2 linked regions of the Homo sapiens genome follow. The protein of the gene in region 1 purifies or fractionates together with the protein of each later gene. This does not show direct contact. Each region holds a gene or a part of one and is shown in the gene's direction. Other genes may lie near its edges. The genes, in order: STEEP1 and GSTA2.

Evidence for each region.
Region 2: the proteins of STEEP1 (region 1) and GSTA2 purify together in Homo sapiens (affinity purification with mass spectrometry; one large-scale study listed by BioGRID and IntAct). This does not show direct contact.

What each region holds. Positions count from the first base shown.
Region 1 is NC_000023.11:119,555,165-119,558,987, reverse strand, and holds part of STEEP1 (STING ER exit protein), read left to right. Parts: intron 1-3,823.
Region 2 is NC_000006.12:52,753,230-52,757,052, reverse strand, and holds part of GSTA2 (glutathione S-transferase A2), read left to right. Parts: intron 1-743; coding exon 744-795; intron 796-1,977; coding exon 1,978-2,110; intron 2,111-3,823. UniProt on the Homo sapiens protein: Catalyzes the conjugation of glutathione to a large variety of electrophilic compounds.

The sequences.
Region 1 (3,823 bases):
GCCTCTGCCTCCCAAAGTGCTGGGATTAGAGGGGTGAGCCACTGCGCCCGGCCTATCTCTGTTTTTTAAGCAGGGGTGTGATGTGGTTAGCTCTGTTTTAGATTTGGGAGTTTGGTATATATGGGAAATTGAAACCTGGGAAGGGATAAAATTACAGAGTGTGGAGCAAGCAGATAGGACTGAATATTTAAAAGGCAGACAAAAGAATTGGAACAGAACCAGAAGAACCTGGTGATGCAGAAAATAGGAGAGAGTATCAAGAAGTGTGTGGGGGTGTGGCTAGGGGACGGTCAGCAGCAGGTGCTAGAAGTCATGGAAAGGTCAATCCTAGGGAATTAAAAAATCCATCCATTCATGCAACAAATATTTCATTTACCGAGCTCCTACTATGTTCCAGGTACTATCCTAGAAGTCTGGAATATATACCAGTGTATTAGTTTTCTTTTTTTTGGAGACGGAGTCTCGCTCTGTCACCCAGGCTGGAGTACAGTGGCGCGATCTCGGCTCACTGCAAGCTCTGCCTCCCAGGTTCACGCCGTTCTCCTGCCTCAGCCTCCCGAGTAGCTGGGACTACAGGCGCCTGCCACCATGCCCGGCTAATTTTTTTTTGTATTTTTAGTAGAGACGGGGTTTCACCGTGTTAGCCAGGATGGCCTCGATCTCCTGACCTCGTGGTCTGTCTGCCTTGGCCTCCCAAAGTGCTGGGATTACAGACGTGAGCCATCGTGCCCGGCCGCCAGTGTATTAGTTTTCTAGAGCTGCCATAGTAAAGTACTACAGCCTGGGTGTGGTGGCTCACGCCTGTAATCCCAACACTTTGAGAGGCTGAGGTGGGTGGATCACTTGAGACCAGGAGTTCGAGACCAGGCTGGCCAACGTAGTGAAACCCCATCTCTACTAAAAATACAAAAATTAGTTGGGCATGGTGGCGCGTGTGCCTGTAATCCCAGCTACTCGGGAGGCTGGGATAGGAGAATTGCTTGTATGGGGAGGCAGAGGTTGCAGTGAGCTGAGATTGTGCCACTGTACTCCAGCCTGGGCGACAGAGTGAGACACTGTCTCAAAAAATAAAAAAAAAATAAAGTACTACAAATTGGGTGGCCTAAAACAAGAGAAGTTGTTTAATAGTTGTGGAGGCTAGAAGTCTGAAATCAAGGTATTGGTAAGTCCATGCTCTCTCTCAAGATTGTAGGGGAGAATCCTTCCTTGCCTCATTCCTGGTTTTTGGCGTTTACCAGCAATCCTTGGCATTCCTTGGCTTGTATTGTAAATGCATCACTCCAGTCAGTGCTTGTATCATCACATGGCATTCTCCCTTTGCCTGTTCTTTTCTTATAAGGGCACCAATCATATTGGATTAAGGGCCCATCCTCCTCCAGTATGACATCATTTTAACTTAACTAATTATGTCTGCAACATCACTATTTCCAAATAAGGTCACATTCTGAGGTTCCTGGATGGATGTGGATTTTTTTTTCTTTTTTCTTTTTTCTTTTTTTTTTTTTTTTTGAGATGGTGTGTGCTACCATGCCTGGCTAGTTTTTGTGTTTTTAGTAGAGATGGGGTTTCACCATGTTGGCCAGGCTGGTCTCAAACTCTTGGACTCAAGTGATCCTCCCACCTCGGCCTCCCAAAGTGCTGGGATCACAGGCATGAGCCACTGTGCCCGGCCAGAATGTGAATTTTTAAGGGTCACTATCTAACCCAGTACAACCAGTAAACAGCAAAGAATCCTGCCCTTATGAAACTTTAGTGTTGAACCAGAAAAAAACTATAGGCTGACATCTAGCTACATGTTTTCTTTCTTTCTTTTCTTTTTTTTTTTTTTTTTTGAGATAGAGTCTCGCTCTGTCACCCAAGCTGGAGTGCAGTGATGCGATCTCAGCTCACTGCAACCTCTGCCTCCTGGGTTCAAGTGATCCTCCTGCCTCAGCCTCCCATGTAGCTGGGATTACGGTTGTGCACCACTATGCCTGGCTAATTTTTGTATTTTTAGTAGAGACAGGGTTTCAACACGTGAAGCTGCTCTTGTGAGCCTCCTTCTCCTTCTTTGGCCTTCTCAATCCTTTGGATTCTTTTTCTTCTGCCTGCCCCTCAAGTATTGGTATTCCATGCGGTTCTGACCTTGCTTTTGTCCCCACTCTCTTTATGCCTTCCTTGGGCATTCTTGTCACCTTACATGGCATTAGTTACACTTTTATGCTGATGATAAAATCTAAATCTGCCTACTGTGCCTTCCTGTGTCCCAGAACTGTATAGCCAGTTGCCTACTCTACCTCTTCACCTGATGTCCTACTTTTCAGATCCAACATGATGAAGGCCAAACTTATCATTTCTCTACTGTGGACAGTACCACAGATCGATTCGCTCAGCACCACTCTGACACTCTTTTTTTTTTTTTTTTTGAGACGGAGTCTCGCTCTGTCACCCAGGCTGGAGTGCAGTGGCGTGATCTCAGCTCACTGCAAGCTCCGCCTCCCGGGTTCAGGCCATTCTCCTGCCTCAGCCTCCTGAGTAGCTGGGACTACAGGTGCCTGCAACCACGCCCGGCTAATTTTTTGTGTTTTTAGTAGAGACGGGGTTTCACTGTGTTAGCCGGGACGGTCTCGATCTCCTGACCTCGTGATCCGCCCACTTCGGCCTCCCAAAGTGCTGGGATTACAGGCGTACTCTGACACTCTTCTGCTACACCCTCCTATACACGAGTGTCTGTAAAGTTAGGGTGCATATTCCAGTCCCCTTCCCCCCAACAACTAAGATTCTGAATATGACTTAGCTTTGGCCAAGCAAAAGAGATGGAAGTAGATGTCAGCTGATGGGTGACTTCAAGCCTTTTTTACCCTTTATCCTTATTCCATCCTGCTTCTTGGGAAATGGACATGATAATTGGAACACTAGCAGCCAGCCTGGAACTGGGAAGGAGAGGCCACAAGAATTGCAGAGCCTTTGCCCTGCTATCCTTGGGTCTCAACCAGTGCTCAGAACTGCCTTCCTCCTGATGTTACATGAGAGAACAAGCTCTTTTGTTGAAGCCATTGCAGTCAGGTCTCTATTACTATTAGCCAAATGCTAGTCCTTCTTTTCCTTCTTCTTATGATGACACCAGGATTCATGCAGTGGCCCCAGCCAGAAATCTAGGAGTCAGTCTCTCTTTGTCTCATCTGTCCCCACCATCCCACCATCATCCCCTGCATACATCTAGTCACTCACCATGTACTGTCGATTCTGCCTTCTAATCTCTTTTGTGGCTGCTGCCTCCTGTTCAGCCCTGCTGCACTGCCGTTATTTCAGTACCCAAAATCACTTACTTAGACTACTGAAGTGGCCTCTTACCTGGTCTTTTGGTCTCTAGTTTTGCTCTCCTCCAGTCTATCCTCTACTGCTTGAATTATCTGAAATACACATTATGTCAGTCACCTGCTTCAAATCTGTTAGTGACCCTTCATCACTTATAGCAATGCCTTTGAAACATTTTTAGATGAAAAATCCTTTCTTTAATTAAATTCTTACCCAGAAGTATAAATAAGACTGATAAGCAGAAAGCTGCTCTGAGTGGGGAGGAGTCTAGCCCAATCCATTAAGGACTCCTCCTTCCTCCCCATCTGATTTCATTTAGGGATCATTGTGGAGTACAAGGAAAACACTCCTAGTTGGCTGGATAAAAATATAAGCCTGAATGCGCTCTATGATCTGTCCATCTTCATCTTCTGGTACTCTCTTGATTTTTTTTTTTTTAAAGAACAAACATTTATCATTTTATGTATTTTCTGTGGGTCAGGAATTCAAGAGCAAGCTTAGCTAGGTGATTCTGGTCTCTCATGAA
Region 2 (3,823 bases), on another chromosome or scaffold:
GGGCAGCCTACGTGTCTATGAGGATGCAGAGAAATAAACACGTGGTTAAAATGAGGGGAGGAGGCTTCTAGAACACACAAGCATTCCCCAATGCCACAAAACCACATCAGAAACCAGAGGTTTTCCTTAAAAATAATGCTAGTGTGGGACCCTAATTCCTTTATTAAATTGAGAATTTTACCCTATTGTGTCTCACGTACTTCAGAAGAGAAAATTACAGTTGCAAGTGTGAAAGCTGTGCAACAGTGGCGACCTATGTCACCCTTAGCAGGGTTCCTGAGAAGTGGGGCGATACAAATTACAGCAGAGGCTCCTTGGTGGCAGAATATTTGATGGCCATTAGCCCATGTCATGCCTCATGCTGGGGACACACAAGGTTGTGGTCTGATCTCACTTGGAGACACAGGCTTTCCTAAGATATGACAACACCATAACTAGAAGAACTGCTCAGTGCCTTTTCTCCAGTGATGTCCCTCTCAAAACATGACCTAATCATAGACATTCATATCAAGGTGGAGGTGAAGTGAACTAGAAGATTGAGCAGCTATGTGCTGTGACCCATGCACTTTTCTCAATGAATTAGGTCTAAATTTCCAAATGGCCATGACTAGCCCCCTCTGTGTACCCTGCCAAACTCAGAAATCTTATATTCTCCAAATGATGCACCAGATAGAGGCCATTCAATTTCACAGGTCTATAATAGAATGAACTAACAAGAACATATTTACTGTTTCTGCTTCCAGTTTGAAGAGAAATTTATAAAATCTGCAGAAGATTTGGACAAGTTAAGAAATGGTAAGATCAACCTCTAAGTTTCTCTAATGAGGGTATCTAGTAGAAGGTACACGGGGAGGTTTGCGCAGCCGGCAATGTCTATGGGTGTGGGGCATGGTATTTGTACATGGTGCAGAGGGAGAAAGTGGTTAAAATGGAAGGGATGTGGCTCCTTGAGCAAGTCTGGCAACTCTCTCCAGGCTTAAAGGACCAGACCTCTCAGAGTATTTGCTAGAGGAACAATCTCCCACCCCTGAGAAAGCCCTTTCTTTGTTTTCATGCTTGGGGTACTGTGAGTGAGCAGTGGTCATCAGCACAGGATCCCATACAGCCCTCTCCATCCAAGCACATGCAAGAACATGCATTAGACAAAAGGAGGAGGAATAGATGTGGCCACTGTCTTGAGTTTTTTCTTTCATGGGGGGAGTGGGACTGGGTAACACTGTAGCAATATCGCAGACTTTGAAGAGCACAGAAAGGGACCCTTATATAAAAACCTCTCAGAACCTGCCTTAAATATCATAAACACCATGAGACTTACTCTGGGAACATCCTGTTTTAAATGACATCTTGTTGCCAGTACTATTGTAACTTGTCCCAACCTCTTCCTAAAATATCCATGAAGATAAATCAACACAAAAAATTCAAGAGTCCCACTATGTATCTGGAGGGGCAACAAAAACATATATGAAATAAATGGATAAAAACTAAAAGGAAACTTCTTAAGAAAAAGAAGAACTACAGGAAGCTTTATAAACATATTGTTTGGACTGGGTGCAGTGGCTTACACCTGTAATCCCAATTTGGGAGGCTGAGGCAGGTGGATGACTTCAGTTCAGGAATTTGAGACCAGTTTGGCCAACATGGTGAGACACCATCTCTTCTAAAAATACAAAAATTAGCCATGTGCAGTGGTGCATGCCTGTAATCTCAGCTATAGAGAGGCTGAGATAGTAGAATCGCTTGAACCTGGGAGGCAGAGGTTACAGTGAGCCAAGATCACACCACTCCACTCCAGCCTGGACAACAGAATGATACTCTGCCTCAAAAAAAAAAAAAAAAAGTTGTTTCAAGTGAACTCTTACCAGGCAGTAATTTCTTTTTCGTTTTACAAATTTAGTCATTTCAACAACCATTTTTTTTCATCCTGAAATGGTGGGTTTCATAGACACTTCACTCTCCTTTTTTTTCTTCCTCTTAAAGATGGATATTTGATGTTCCAGCAAGTGCCAATGGTTGAGATTGATGGGATGAAGCTGGTGCAGACCAGAGCCATTCTCAACTACATTGCCAGCAAATACAACCTCTATGGGAAAGACATAAAGGAGAAAGCCCTGTACGGTATATTTTCTGTTCTTCCATCCACAGAGAACATAGAGTGATTTAGGTCCTTCCTTGAGTGGGTGGGACCATGGCAGGGTATCAAGACCAGCAGCAGGCTGGGCCTTGGGCATGCACGCTGAGGTCCAGTATTGCAGAGTCCCATGGAGATGAGGGAACAGTGAACATGGGGAGGGTTCAGGCGAGGGTGATTCTAGAAGAGGATGCAGTCCATGGACACAGCACCCTGACAAAGGTTTCCAAACTCTCATAAACCCAATGAACTGAGGAGGATGGGGAATCATGTTTCCAGGTGCTCAGGACTTCAGAGGCTGGACCCCGGCCAATGGCTTAGGACAGGCATAGAATATGTGAGAGTCTGTAGATGAAGGACTGGGGAGGGAAAGCTGCAAAGAAACCAAGTCTAAGGTCCCAGTAATTCCAAGTATGATGAACAGGAACCTAAATTACCAACCAATTATATCAACTGGAATACTTGAGCAGGGCTAGTAGAGGCTGGCACCAAGGATACTGGAGTTACCTTGACACATGGATAGAAGGCCGAAACAGCCAGATTGATTCAATACCAGCAAAGCCAAGGGGTCTCCTTGTTGTTGTGATGAGACTGCATGATTCCAAATAAATCCTGAATGAAACTGCTGGCAGCTCCTCAAAAACTTTAATATGGTATTACCGATGACCCAGCAGTTCCTCTAACAAGTATATCCCCAAACAATCGAAAATACATCCACACTATATATTTTACATAAGTGAATAATGCAAATAACAATATTCATAGAATTCAAAAAGTGGAAACAACCCAAATATCCATCAATCAATAAATGGAGGAGAAAAATGCGCCTTAGCCATGCAATGGAAAGATATTTGGTCATGAAAAGGAATGAAGTACGAATGCATGCTACAAGATGGTTAAACCATAAAGACATGTTACATAAAATACACGAGACACAGAAGGCCACATATTATAGGATTATTTTAATATGAAATGTCCAGATATTCAAATCCATAGAGGTAGAAAGTAGATTAGTGATTGCCTGGGGCTAAAGGAGTGGGGCTTGGAGAAAAATGAAGAATACCGCTAATGGTACAGATGTCCTTATCAAGGTGACAAAAATAATTCTGCAATTAGACTGTGATTATTTTTACAGAATTCTGTGAATGCACTGAAAACCACTCAATAGTATAACATAAGAGGTGGCAATTATAGTATGTGAATATGCATCAGTAAAGCTCTTGTTTTAAAAAGTATTGTGAAACTCCAGTTTGACACAAAAGAAGAAAAGTTTGCACGGTTGTAACTGTACAGAGAATTTCACCAGGGAAGGGGTTGGCTCTTAAGAAAGGCACACATGGCTAGAGTTGGGCAACAGCACATGGAGAGGGCTGTGGAAACGTTTTTCATGGGTGTAATTGGAAGAACTGCAAATATGGGGCATAGAAGCAGCCCTGGGAGCTGTAAAATGATGAGAGAGGACAAGGAATATGGCTGAGATGGCTGTGCCAGGGACTCTCTTAGGATTACTTAGGAAGCAGGTCTTTGGCCATTTGACTCACACTAAGTTCATGCACAGAACAAACCACAATGGAGATGATAAATCCTGGCACAGCATCAGTGGGTACTGGCAGTGATTCCACCAATTTCTCTCATGACTGTGACCACCGATGATCTTCTTCCTGTATTAGGTCATGCGTGTAACAAAATTTAGAG